2 linked regions of the Homo sapiens genome follow. The protein of the gene in region 2 interacts with the protein of the main gene of each other region in a biochemical or structural test. Each region holds a gene or a part of one and is shown on either strand. Other genes may lie near its edges.

Region 1 (7,674 bases), on a different chromosome or scaffold from region 2:
AACTCTTATAGTCCCCTCTGTGTCTCCCTTTCATTTGGTTACCGTCCACCTCTGCCTCTCCTCTCTCTGGGGAGGAACACAATTTTGAAGTTAAGAGCCCACCACTGAAATCAGTCTATCAAGGTTGAGATCCCAGTTCTGACACTTCCTATTTGTAGAACTACCATCAAGTCACTTGATTTTTCTGGGCCTTACGACCAAACTCATAGGATTGTTTTGTGCACTGTAGTATATAACATATGTGTACGTTTAGCATGATGCCTGACACGTAGGACACTTATGAATACTCAGGAAATACTTCCTTTTTTGAAACTTCATAGCCCAATGAAGTCCCACCACCATTACTAATAGTAACCCAGTGTTAAGCTCTTTGTGCAGCACTTAGAATCTATAGCATCCACTTCACTACTCCTATGGCTCTGCATTATTTGCTTTGTTCTTAGAAAAGGATCTTACCCTCCCCAACTAGACTGTGAAATCCTGGACAACTAGACACCCAACCCATTCTGAGAAACACTTGAACACTTGGTGATTGGTAACAAAATGCATCCACATGTAGCCACTATGTAAAACAAGTGAGAGTCACGACTGCTGCCCTATAAGAGTCTATGTGGCCAGGTGTGGTGATTCACACCTGTAATCCCAGCACTTTGGGAGACTGAGGTGAGAGGATCACTTGAGCACAGGAGTTCAAGCCCAGCCTGGGCAATGTAACGAGACCTCTATCTATAAAAAATGAGGCAGGAGTTGGCAAGAGGTCAAGACTGCAATGAGCCATGATCCTGCCACTATACTCCTGCCTGGGTGATGGGAGACCCTGTCTCAAAAAAAAAAAAAAAAAAGTTTATTTATTTGGCAAGATAATCACATCTCTCCCTTATGGCCCACCACCTGGTTTTATGAATAAAGTTTTATTGAGACATAGCCACACCCATTCATTATACACTGTCTATGGCTGCTTTCACACCATAACAGCAGAATTGGATAATTGTGACAGAGATAGAATTGTTTGCAAAGCCTCAATTACTCTGTGGCCCTTTACAGAGAAAGTTTGCCAAGCCGTGGTCTAGATAGTTAAGAGCACAAGCTCTGAAAAGTTCCACTTTGCCACTCACTGTCTGTGTTGCCTCAGACAAATTTATTTAGCTACTCAGTTTATCCCTGGGCAAGAAAGAATTGAATGGAATCATACATATATCACATAGCAGAAACCCAAAAGTATCTACCATAGAGGTGATATAACAACAAGAGAAGAGACTATTTTTAAAATTACATTGTCAACATATGATATCCAGGATGGATATCATTCCACAGTGTTTTTGTACTTACTAAAAGCTTCCTCAGAAAAGTAATTACTTTAAAAACCAAGATTAAATTTAGCTTCATAGCTTTCTATGATGATACAAACACATCAGGGATGGAGGTTTAGTCATCTTTTCATCCCACATGGAATGTGGTACAGTCCTGGCTCATGAAAGGGAAATGTTACATGTTAAATGAATTGAAGTTCCCTTCTCAAATACATGTAAGATCCTGAAGGTTGGTGAATTGAAAATATAAACATTTGTGGATGTCACCAGATGTTAGAAATGGTACCTTTTGTTAGCATTGTGTTCATATCCTCTCTTCAAGTACATTTTCCTTTGTGCTTTGCTGTTCTTTGAAAAACACTTTCTCAGTCTAAACAGTGTTTTCTCTTTCACTCCTTTTAATTTGCACTAGCCCGGAAACAAATCATCAATGCCTGAGACTGCACTTCTCAGTGTTGCTCAGAAAACTATGGAAGGAAGTGACTGTGTGGGTAGTTAACTTGCTTTCCCACCTCAAGCTTCAAACACATCTACCTGAATACAGTAGGCATGAAACATCTGGCTTAGATCTAAACACGCTTGCCTGCCACACACACACACACACTCGAGGTTCTTCTTAATTTTTCTTGGAACTTGGTAAGAATCAGCGTGTGAGAAATTGCCACACCATACACAACACCCCATCTTGTGGGCTGGCACGTTTTCATGATGTGCTTGCATAAGGGAGGATGCAGAACAGATAGAGCATGGTGCCCACGGAGGTGAACCCTTCTGAGGGGTTCATTCAAACTTCTCAGATGCAGCATACCTAGCCACACTTCACAGTTGCTGATTTTTCCGCAATAAAAGACTTAGTTTGTGATCAGTGCTTGCAGTGCTGTTTTTTGATCTCTGCACCATCTTCCTAATCTCTTCACGTACCTCCTTTCTCCAATAATTTCCCCAGATTCCCCACCACTACAAGCATTTTCCTTCCAGCATGTGCCCATTGTGAATATTCTGAAATCTGAAGACTTTTTTTTTTTTTTTTTTTTTTTTTTACTGTTACCTTACCCCAGTATACATATAATGCACAGAGGAAACTTGGCCACAGAAAAAGAAAAAAGACATTGATTTTGTTATTACAAAGCCAGCGCAGCAGTCATTACGTGAAACTCCAAGCCCTTGTAAGATGAGCAAACACTGAAAAAATTGAGGCCCACTCTGCAGTGATGTTTTTGTAATAAGCATGTTTATAGTATTATAAATTTCACACTTCCACATTTCTATACTTACAAGGTCTTAATCATAATGAATGCCATTTCTGTATTTCTCTTCAAGAAAGGAAATTACCCTTTCCACATGGACTTGAATTGCAAGATTGTTCATAGAGACTGTGGAATTCTGCTCCTGCTGTGATGGCTGTAATGAGTTCTTTGTAGTGTATGTTTATTCAGATAACAATTTATGCTTAAAAACATAACACTTTTCAAGTACACTTCAGTGAACTTGGATCTAGTTCTTATATTCTGTAGGGTAAATAAAAAAGAAAAAAAAAAGGTATAGTCCCTTCCTTCCCAAATAGAGTAAGTACAAAATCATACAGAAGTTCATTCAGAAGCCAGAAATATAATGTTCTTTTTATGAAATGAGAGACTTCTCCAGCTCTGGTAATCTGTTACTTTCTGGTTTTGAATAGTTTTTATTACTTCTCTGGAGTTAATAGTACATTGAAAAAGATGGAACATTAATTATATATATATTTGCTTGTATATATACTTTACATATTGTTTTTAATTGTACTTTTTATCTATTAAATATGATGCCAGCCCTCTTAGTCATTAAAAAAATTGAATTCTGGGCACCTACATCAAAAATTCAACATTACTTTTTTAAATTGTACAAATGAGGATAGTCTATTTGTTTTTATAATTCTTTCCTCCCATCTTCTGGCATTATCAGATATAAGTTTATTGGAGTAATCTCCAATTTATAAAAAGGTTGGTTTGAGAATAATTCAAGTCAGCTGTCTGAAGCTCAGGGTGCATTTTGTTAGAAATGGTGGTCAAGCCCTCAATAGAGTTCTGCAAGATCTCTTTATCCCTACTAGTAGGTAACAAGAATATTGATGATAGAAAAAAACCTGCTGGGTGTGGTGGCTCACGCCTGTAATCTCAGCACTTTGGGAGGCCAAGGTGGGCGGATCCCTTGAGGCCAGGAGTTGAAGACCAGCCTGGTCAACATGGCAAAACCCTGTCTCTTCTCTTCTAAAAATACAAAAATTAGCTGGGCATGGTGGTGCACGCCTGTAGTCCCAGCTACCCACGAGGCTGAGGCAGGAGATTTCGCTTGAACCCAGGAGGTGGAGGTTGCAGTGAGCCAAGATCATGGCACTGCACTCCAGCCTGGGCAACACAGTGAAACTCTGTCTCAAGGAAAAAAAAAAGTTTCTTATTGCTTGGTATAGAACTAACTTGAAAAAATAGGAGGAAATGCATATATAAAGCAACACAAAGACAGATATATGATACGTATCCAATACTTGAAAGGTGATGGTGTTTTGATGTTATTTACAGTAAGTTTTAAGTTAATATATCTATCGGTACCTATTAAATACACTTTTAAAACAGCTTTATTGAGATTATTTATATACCATGTAATTCACTTATTTAAAGTGTACAATTCAGTGGGTTTTGATATAGTACTTTTTTTAATTATAAAATTTGCCATTTTAACATTTTTAAGTGCACAATTCATAAAAGGCATTAATTACACTCACAATACTGTGCAGCCATCACCAGTATTTTCAAAATATTTTCACCACCCCAATTAAGCAGCAACACCCCATTTCCTTCCTCCCCCTAACCCTTGGAAACCTCTAATCTACTTTCTGTCTTTATGAGTTTACCAATTCTAAGTACGTCATATGTGTGCAAGCATACAATATTTGTTATTTTATGTTGGGTTTATTTATTATAATGTTCTCACAGTTCATGCATATTACAGCATCTGTCAGAGCTTTACTCTTTTTTATGGCTGAATAATATTCTTTTTGTTTCTGATATTCTGATATTCTGTTTGGTTTGGTTTTGTTTCTCCATGTATCTGTTGATGGACACTTGGATTGTTTTCGCCTTTTAGCTGTTGTTAACAATGCTGCTATTAAAATTGATGTACATTGCTTCTTGCCCTTTTGACTAAGATCAAGTGTCTATCAGAGCCCCTGCTCTCAATTCCTTTAGATATATACATTGGAGTAGACTAGCAGGGTCGGTCATATGGTTATTCTATGTTTAGCTTTTTGAGGAACCACCAAACTGTTTTCACAGCAGCTGCACCTTTGTACATTCCCAACAGTGCACAAGAGTACAAATCTCTCCATATTTTCCCAAACCCTTGTTAATTTTATAGCCATGCTAGTAGATGTGGAGAGGTCTGTCACTGTGGTTTTGATATGCATTTTTCTAAATGATTACCATTATTGAGCATCTTTTCCTGTGCTTATTGACCATTTGTATATCTTCTTTAGAAAAATGTCTGTTCAAGTCTTTTGCCTATTTTTTAATTGGGTTTTTTGTTATTGAATTGTAGGAGCTCTTTATATATTCTGGACACTAAACGCCTATCAGATGACATGATTTGTAAATATTTTCTCCCATTCTATAGATTGGCTTTTCACTTTCTTAATAATGGCCTTGGCCAGGTGTGGTAGCTCATGCTTATAATCCCAGCACTTTGGGAGGCTGAAGTGGGAGGACTGCTTGAGGCCAGAAGTTCAAGACAACATAGTGATACCCCCATCTTTACAAAAAGTTTAAAAATTAGCCAGGCTTGGTGGCACCTATAGTTTCAGCTATTCAGGAGGCTGAGGCAAGAGGATCACTTGAACCCAGAAGGTTGAGGCTGCAGTGAGCCATGATCATTCCACTACACTGTAGCCTGGGTAGCAGAGCAAGACCCTGTCTCAAAAAAAAAAAAAAAAAAAAAGTCCTTAGATACATAAAGTTTTTAATTTTGATGAAGTCCAATTTATTTTTTCTTTTGTGAAAAATATGACCTGTGCTGTGGTGTCATATCTAAGAATCCATTGCAAAATTACATTTTTAGTTTATCTTGCTAGATATGTCACAATCCTTTTTCAAAGCATCTAGGAGAATTCTTGGTACATAAGAGACTCCTTCTTAAATCAATGTAAGAAAATATAGGTTGGGCACAGTGGCTCACACCTGTAATCCCAGCACTTTGGGAGGCCAAGGCGGGTGGATCACCTGAGATTAGGAGTTTGAGAACAGCCTGGCCAACATGGCAAAACCTTGTCTCTACTAAAAATATAAAAATTAGCCAAGCATGATGGCAGGCACCAGTAATCCCAGCTGCTCAGGAGGCTGAGGCAAGAGAATCGCTTGAACCTGGGAGGCAGAGGTTGCAGTGAGCTGAGATCTTATCACTGCACTCTTACCTGGGCAACAGAATGAGACTCCATCTCAAAAAAAAAAAAAGAAAAGAAAATATAAACCAATTGTTTTATCATCACACATGAACTGAATGCTACACAAATGTAGTGTGCTCAGAAATACCAGAAATCTATGGAAGTGAGACTGTTACAGAGGCCCATTGTAGATAGACCTGACCTTACAAACAGGTGTTCTAAGAGAGATGTCAGTCTGGAAGATGTAAAATGATCCATAATATTGGGTCGTTTGGAGGACAGATTGACAGGAGAGCCCGAGGCAGCTGTATCTTTGTGCACACTTATTATATAGCTGAAACAAGCATACTTAACTCAGTTGAACAGAAGTAAGCTATCACTCCCCTGATGAAGAGCCTACAGTGGCTCCCAATCACTCAGGGAATCAGAGTGAAGGCCAAGCTAAGAAATAAACTTAGCCTTGGCTTTCAAGTCATCTGTCTGCTTTCACCTATCCACATTTTGTGAATGGGTGGGTGCCTGGGTGGGTGGATGGATGGTCAGACATAGCAGTGTTAGGGAAAATGATTATAACAGATCAAATCTGCAGTGCAGATGTAGGCTTCATGAGCAATGACACAGTATTTATTGAACCAATGATGATTGAATACATTAGCAGATTAGGTAACAAAGTGTCCCTCTTGTCTCTTGGCCGAAAGGACCCCAGAGAGATGCCCAGGCAGCCCGAGAATTCATTCTGAAGATGTTCGTGGACCTGAACCCAGACAGTGACAAAATTATCTACTCCCACTTCACGTGCGCCACAGACACCGAGAATATCCGCTTTGTCTTTGCTGCCGTCAAGGACACCATCCTCCAGTTGAACCTGAAGGAGTACAATCTGGTCTAATTGTGCCTCCTAGACACCCGCCCTGCCCTTCCCTGGTGGGCTATTGAAGATACACAAGAGGGACTGTATTTCTGTGGAAAACAATTTGCATAATACTAATTTATTGCCGTCCTGGACTCTGTGTGAGCGTGTCCACAGAGTTTGTAGTAAATATTATGATTTTATTTAAACTATTCAGAGGAAAAACAGAGGATGCTGAAGTACAGTCCCAGCACATTTCCTCTCTATCTTTTTTTTAGGCAAAACCTTGTGACTCAGTGTATTTTAAATTCTCAGTCATGCACTCACAAAGATAAGACTTGTTTCTTTCTGTCTCTCTCTCTTTTTCTTTTCTATGGAGCAAAACAAAGCTGATTTCCCTTTTTTCTTCCCCCGCTAATTCATACCTCCCTCCTGATGTTTTTCCCAGGTTACAATGGCCTTTATCCTAGTTCCATTCTTGGTCAAGTTTTTCTCTCAAATGATACAGTCAGGACACATCGTTCGATTTAAGCCATCATCAGCTTAATTTAAGTTTGTAGTTTTTGCTGAAGGATTATATGTATTAATACTTACGGTTTTAAATGTGTTGCTTTGGATACACACATAGTTTCTTTTTTAATAGAATATACTGTCTTGTCTCACTTTGGACTGGGACAGTGGATGCCCATCTAAAAGTTAAGTGTCATTTCTTTTAGATGTTTACCTTCAGCCATAGCTTGATTGCTCAGAGAAATATGCAGAAGGCAGGATCAAAGACACACAGGAGTCCTTTCTTTTGAAATGCCACGTGCCATTGTCTTTCCTCCCTTCTTTGCTTCTTTTTCTTACCCTCTCTTTCAATTGCAGATGCCAAAAAAGATGCCAACAGACACTACATTACCCTAATGGCTGCTACCCAGAACCTTTTTATAGGTTGTTCTTAATTTTTTTGTTGTTGTTGTTCAAGCTTTTCCTTTCTTTTTTTTCTTGGTGTTTGGGCCACGATTTTAAAATGACTTTTATTATGGGTATGTGTTGCCAAAGCTGGCTTTTTGTCAAATAAAATGAATACGAACTTAAAAAATAAAAGCTGGTATCTTAAAATG
Region 2 (7,674 bases):
GCTATTTCCAACATTTTAGATAACTTATCAGTTTTTATTGATATTTTATCAACAAACAAAATATTGATAATAAGTCATGAAAATTTCCTTATATCACTAATTTTTTTTTTGTATGTGAGCATGGAGGAAGACATAGGAGTCTAAATTATGTGGTCTTCCCTTATAGAGTATTGAATCATTTTTCTGGAAGTGAATTAAATCACTGTTGTATCCTCTTGATTTTTTTTCTGATCAGCTTGATCCTTTAAGGCTGGTATATCTCAGAATTGTCTTAGTATGAGGACAAGACCTTTCTTAGTAGTAGGACAAGACATAGTGTTTATACCAGAAACACGAACTTTCTTTGGTATCTCTTCTACGGCTGAGCCAGAAATCCAAAGTCATCCAAACCTATCAAAACTCTCCTATCTCCATTAACCTCAGTCCCATAGCATCTGTCTTCTTCTAGACTTCACAAAATTTGCCCTGCTCATGTGCAGCTTAGCCCTCAGTCAAGGCTCTGCAGGAAAACTGCATGGAGGCTTCTGGGTCCCCTTATAAAGCAGATTCACTCTGCACTGGTTACCAATTAAGCCCCCTATGTCTTGGGCTACAATTTTGATTACTTGCACAAATCCACTATGATAGAACACTGATACAACTAGTTAAGCAAAGCAACTTTAGTACTTGCAAATAGGCACCAAGGGATAATAGAAGCCTAGTATTCATAATGAGCTTCCCCCTCAACACTCAGGAAAGCTGCTAAGAGTGAATTAAATTTTGTCTATGATGTTCCAATTGCATGGCAGCCGAGGGATCCCAGAAAGCAGCCTGTCCTGGTTTTTATGTCCGAGGGAATACAGGTATCCCTGGGCTAAAGTGTCAAAGAAGATCCTATTTTGGGGTGGCAAAGGAACACAGCAAGGTTATTCTGGTCAATTTCTCTTATCTCAGGATGTTGCATTGTCAGCACATTGTACATTTATTTTTGAGAAACACAAGTGACAAAAAAGAGAGAACAAGTTAGTACAAGGTCACTCAAACTGTCCCACACCCTTCTGCATGTTTCCTTTTTTCAGTAGCCTGACCCACAAATTCCAAATACATCATAATGCCCAAACTCTTATCTCTGCCTCCTCAATTCAGCAAGACTTCTTACTATGGTTAGCCTCCATCTTCATGCGTACCAGTCTTAAAAATGCCCCCAGGTAGAAAGCCAGAGCAAACCTAGCACTCACTTCATGTGTTTTTCTTCTCATCTGTTGCCAGTTGTATTCTGCTTGGAAACTACTGCCTCAATATTTTTTCTAGTTTTATAGTTATTTGTGGTAGGAGGACAAGCCTGGTTCCCATTACTTTGTAATGACCCTCCTCTTCTTAATAGTTTAGTAGTAATATGTTCTTTTATTTAAGGTAGTGCTCTATAGATTAAATATCAAATCAAGGGCTTTGTCCACTTCTAAAATTGCTGGTCTCTGGTACCTAGACCAGTGTCTGGAACACAGCATGTGATCAATATTGTTTCAATGAATTAATGAGTTATTCAGTGGGGAGTTCAGGATGCAAACAAAAGTATTTAATAAAATAGTTGAACAAAGTAAGGAATACATTATATGTTTCAATAACTCATAGTGATATCCAACAGAGAGCAGTGTACCTCCAGAAATGTTTGTGAGCTTGTCCAAAGTCATATAGACTGGCATTTACCACAAACTCTAGCTTCACACGTTCTCAAAATTGATGCTGTCATCTTGTTAGCATGCCAGGAAGGACCCAACTCTCAGTAGAAGGCTCACATTGGCAAAACTCATGGGGTTAAATACCAAACTAATAATACAGATTCAGAAATAAAACTGTCACTGATAGCCATTTCTCTACCTTTTCATATGACCAAAGAAGCATCCAAAATGTATTAAAAATTTTGCTTGCCAAGCATGAAACTAGAATATTAATTAAATGTTTAATGTCATCAAGCTAAGAATTAACTTTTTAAATAAATTAGTATATTTTTAACTACATATTTTTGTCCATATTCACAATAGGACACAATTTTGTGGATTTTTTTTTTGCTTTTTTATGTTACCAGCTCTGATTGTCCATATCTCTTGTAAATATGATAGGTCTGATATTTCATTTAGTACACAAAATATTTCCTAGAAGTGTTTCATGTTTTTTTAATATAATTCTGTATTTTTATAATTAATTCAATTATTTGTTGATAATTTATTTTAGTATTATTAAATAATTATTGAGTTATTTCTCATGTTGGGTACTGGAAATTTGGTGACAAGTTAGACAAGGGTCTTCGTCTTATATATGTTACAGTGTAGCCTGGAAAACAAAAGTTAGCAGGCAACTGCAGTACAATATTTTAAGTTTACCCGGCACAGTAGAAGGCCATATATGAAGGACACCCAACTCGTTCTTTAGAGATTGGTGAAGTCTTTCCGGACAAGATGAAGTGTAATTTCAACCTCAATGAATATAGGCTGTATGGGTTAGATTAATAAAATTGCTTTATGGATTTAGAATAGGAAGGGAAAAGTATTCTCAACAGGAGCTAAAACTAAGAGATTCAGGAACATGGCACACGAATGGAACTATACGTGTTTCTCTGTGAGTGGAGCTTAAATCAGTGTAAAAACATAGTAGGAAGAGATGAACGCTATTGGGAAATTTTAAACGGTGAAGAATCATAATAAAATTTGTACTGCAGCAAGATATTACTGATGAGAATGTGGATAATAGTCTTGGAGGATGGAGAAAGAGACAAGGAAAACCTAAATTCAGGGTCACCAGTTAGGAGGTTTTTATAATAATTTGTGTGAGAGATAGTTCCGGTCTAAATAAAAGTAATTACAGATGGCACAAAAATAAAAAGACAGATGTAGGATATATGAAAGGGGAATTTTTTTTTAAGATTTGATTATCAGCTATGTGTGAGATAAGAGGAAAATCAAATATCCCTGAGAATAAATGCCAGGTTTCCCGTTTATATCCCTGAGTGGATAGCGTCATTAAATGGGAAATGTATGCAGGGAAGGTTTTGGGTAAAGATGATAAATGTACCATTCATATGACTAATTCAGTGGTCAATTCAATGATGTTTTTCACATGTTGGTTGGTATGAACTTGGAGCTCAGGAAAAAGGCTTGAGATAAGTTCTAAGAATCATCTGCATATTGATCGTATTTGGGTGTTGAAGTAATTTTTCAGGAAATGAGTTTAAGGGAAAGATGAAGAAGGATAAACTGAGAAGGATTTGGGGATGCAATAGTCAGAGGTGTAATAGGAAACTCTGGAGTTTAGCTGCCATTGAGGAGAATTACAGGCAATTCTCTACCGTGCCTGCTGTTGTGGAGAGATGAAATAACATATGGATGGAAAAAAAATGTTCACTAACTATAACATTAAGTCAATTTGGCAAAAATAATTTAAGTAAAGTGTTGAATGGAAACCACATTTTTGTGTGTTGGAAAGTAAATGAGATAGAGGGGATTAAGAGACTAAGTGTAGAAAACTTAATCAAAGATTTTATATCTGTAAGGAGAAAAGATATGTCAGTAGCTACAGGAATATTTGAAGTTATGATTTTAAAAATAATTTCTTGTAAGAAGATTAAAATATTTTAATGATATCAACATGTAAAGAAACTTTGTTTTTCAGAATTGTTTCTAATGCCTCATTTTGTCTACAGGTATTAACAATATGCATAAAGTACAGTTGAAGTTCAGAAAAAAGGAGTTCAGGAAAAATGTCAAGAGAGAAGATGGGCAAATAGGGAAGATAAAGGAAAGAAGAAGGAAAAGGAGAAAGCAAAGGACAGAATTTTAGCAAATAGCACATTTAATGGGGAAGAGAGGGAGTTAAACCTAAACAGACAACACACAAACAAACAATCACACAGTATGAACTAGGAGATATGCCATCCTACAATCCTATGTGGAAGAGTATTTGAAAAAGGAGGGGGTCAGTATTATCAGATGCTGCCAAGTGGGAAGTCCAGATGGGACTCATGATATTTCCTTATGCAATAACTTACATAAGGAGAGCAGAAAGAGAAATGGGCTATAACTAGAGAGTGAGAGTGAATCTAAAGAAAGATTGCTAAAACTCATTTAAATCCAACTCAAATGTGATTTATTCTGAGAAAGTTTATCTGAAAAATCCATTAGGAACATATTTCCCTTCCCTCAACATTTCTATAGTGCAACTACCATACACCCAAGCAATTTCACTCCTTGGAATTTATTCCAGATAAATAAAGACTTGTGAACATTTTATAAAACTATACACAAATGTTTATAGCAGATTTATTTGTAATAACTGAAAAAAAAAGAAATAACCCATGTTTCCTTCAATGGCAGAATGGTTAAACAAATGATAGTATATTCATATCATGGAATATAATACAGCAACAAAGAGAAACAAACCATTGATACATTCATCAACCTGAATAAATCTCCAGAGAATCAGGCTGTGTGGAAAATAGAAACATCTAAAACAACATATACTACATGATTTAATTTATATAACATTCTTGAATTGACAAAATTATAGCAATGGAGACCAGATTAGTGGTTCCCTGGAGTTAAAAAAAATTACATGTGGGGAGATGTAAATGTGGCTGTAAAAGGGCAACATGTGTTACACTTGTAACTTTCTGTATCTTGATTATATTAATTAATGTCACTATCCTAGCTGTGATATTTCACTGTAGTTTTCCAAGTTGTTACACTGGCGAAAACTGGATAAAGAGTACACGGGGTCTCTCCTAGGAACTTCCTACGAGTTCATGTAAATCTATAATTTTCTCAAAATAAAAAAGTTTAACTTTTACAAGGCTTAAAAATAAGTAGAGTTAAAAAAGATAGTTGAAAGAGCGTTTTTGAAGTCACATTGTCTAGTTTTGAAGTCACATTGTCTTAAGGTTGAATCCAAAGTCTGCCACTTTTTTAGTTATGTAAATGTCATCTTAGTGAGCCTTAAATAAAAATTATCAAGATCACCATCATCATCACAACCACCATTACTAAAACCCTTATGGAGTTTTTAATATGTCCCAGTTACTGTTCCAAACACTTGGTGTATTTTAACACATTTAATTCTCTCAACAGCCCTACCAGGTAGGGATCATTATTATCTTAATTTTAAATATTGAAAAACTAAGACACAGAAAGAAAAGGTAATATGCTCAGGGCCACATAGTAACTAAATGAACACTAATTTGAGCCCAGACAGTCTTCCACAAGACTTAATACCTGCCCCTAACATTTATGGGGCAAGACAAAAAGTGAAAAAGAGGTCCCATGCTGTATGTCTAAATGCTTAGGAGCTATAGAAACTAATAACTTTAAAATATATATGCTAGCCTTCTGCTTTGACAAATATACTTTGTAAGCCACTTGGAAGATTATGTTTGAATTTAAAATTTTCAGACACTTAACGTTTCCACTCTATAAACATGACCTACCACCTTTTTCTCTTCCCCCATGGTTTGGTTTCACACTGTGAGCAGCTCTTTGCACATTTGAGTACACACTCCAGCCTGCAAATTGAAGCCTTGTTCATACTCGGGCCTATGGGTATAAATACCAGTGAGTCAGTGTGTTTTTGGTAGATGGACTTGGAGAAAAGGCTGTGTAAATGCTGGAAGCATAGAGCTTTTAGTAAGGGAACCTCAAGATCCTGAATACCAAAGGCATGGTGTAGAAGTAGGATCCGTTCCAACTGTAATGGCTTCTTGACTCTGTGGAATCACCCCTCACACTCTGCGAGGGGAACGGATAAAAGAGACATAAAGTGAGGTCCACCGTAGGGGGTCCCTCTTACTCTTAGGCCTAAAGTCAAACTTAAGCCTGAGTGAGATACTGGCCTTATTTCAGTGGGAATAATACTTTCCTTTTATAGTTGTGAAAACGACATGAGGGTCTCTCAGGTATATTGTGCAAGATGTGTGCTGCGGTGCTGCATTAGAGGGAAGATGTAGGTTTTCTGTTAATATTTGCAATTATGTTTTATTATCAATCAGTAAATGTTTCCAACATTAATACCATTTTATAGTTATATTATTTATTTTCTTGATAGATGGACTAGAGGCTTTTACCAGATTTCTTAAAACTGAATTCAGTGAAGAAAATATTGAATTTTGGATAGCCTGTGAAGATTTCAAGAAAAGCAAGGGACCTCAACAAATTCACCTTAAAGCAAAAGCAATATATGAGAAATTTATACAGACTGATGCCCCAAAAGAGGTACAGTAAAGATAACTGTAAAAATGCATAATTGCTTTCAAAATTTTTTAATAATTTTATTTTTAAATTGTGAATTATATTTTTCCAACTTATTTTTATTAATTTCATTTATAATTGACATGTAATAATTACACATGTTAATGACATACAGTGTGATGTTTTAATATATGTATGCATTGTATAATGATAAAATCAGAGTTAGCATATTCATCAAATTAAACATTTATCATTTCTTTGTGGTGATAATATTCAATATGTTCTTTTCTAGCAATCTTGAAATATACCATGTATTATTATTCACTATAATCACCTATTAGGTAATATAACACCAGAACTTATTCTTCCTATCTATCTCTGTACCTGTTGATCCATCCTTTCTCCATCCTCCCATCCTTCCTACCTTACCTAGCCCTTGGTAACCACTATTCTGCTCTCTACTTCTATGTGAGCAACTTTATTAGATTCCACATACAAGTCAGATCATGTAGTATTTATTTTTGTGTGCCTGGCTTATTTCACTTAACATAATGTCCTCCAGGTTCATTCACATTGCCACAGATGACTGAGTTTCTTTGTTTTTTAATAACTCAATAGTGTTCCATATGTACCACATTTTCTTTATACATTCATCCTTTGATGGACATTTAGGATGAGTCCATCTCTTGGATACTGTGAATAATGCTGCAATAAACATGGGAGTGTAGATATCTCTTTAACATGCTGATTTCAATTCCTTTAGATATATACCTAGACGTAGAATGGCTGGATCGTATGATAGTTTTATTTTTAATTTTTGAGGAACCCTTATACTATTTTCTATAATGGCTGCACTACCTTACATGCCCACCAACAATGCATGAGTTTCCCTTTCTCCACATCCTCACCAACATTTGTTATTTTTTGTCTTTTTCATTAAAAGCCATTCTAACCGAAGTGAGTTGGTATCTCATTATGGTTTCTACGTGCATATCCCTGATGGGTAATGATGTTGAACATTTTGTCCAAAATGGCACTTTATGTCTTTTTTTGAGAAATGTCTATTCAGAGCTAAATTTTTTAGATAATCTGTCTTTATCAAATTTGTACCCTCATACATTCTACCAGAATGTTCATGATGTTGCTGGAGGGAAGATAATTATTTATGAATATTTATCCATACAAATGGAAGACATTGTAAGATACTATCACAGAAGGAAAAGTACAATTAGAGTCACTTTTCAGAGCTATTTTCATTCTAGACTAAGAGTGAATATGATAAATTGCAACATTTAGATTCATTCACTTATTCATATTAATCACTTTCGCACAAGCAACCTCTCATAGAAACTAAAGATTTTTATAAGTGATGAAGTCAAGGGACATCAAGAAGTTTGCATCATATACCAATTTAATTTTGGCTCATCTATTTATACGGAGTTTTGTTTGCTTTAGGGATACTTTA

The links.
Region 1: the proteins of RGS18 (region 2) and GNAQ form a complex in vitro, tested with the Homo sapiens proteins (one study listed by BioGRID).

The regions. Positions count from the first base shown.
Region 1 is NC_000009.12:77,720,256-77,727,929, reverse strand, and holds part of GNAQ (guanine nucleotide-binding protein G(q) subunit alpha), read left to right. Parts: intron 1-6,416; coding exon 6,417-6,607; 3' UTR 6,608-7,674.
Region 2 is NC_000001.11:192,175,226-192,182,899, forward strand, and holds part of RGS18 (regulator of G-protein signaling 18), read left to right. Parts: intron 1-6,066; coding exon 6,067-6,233; intron 6,234-7,674. UniProt on the Homo sapiens protein: Inhibits signal transduction by increasing the GTPase activity of G protein alpha subunits thereby driving them into their inactive GDP-bound form. Binds to G(i) alpha-1, G(i) alpha-2, G(i) alpha-3 and G(q) alpha.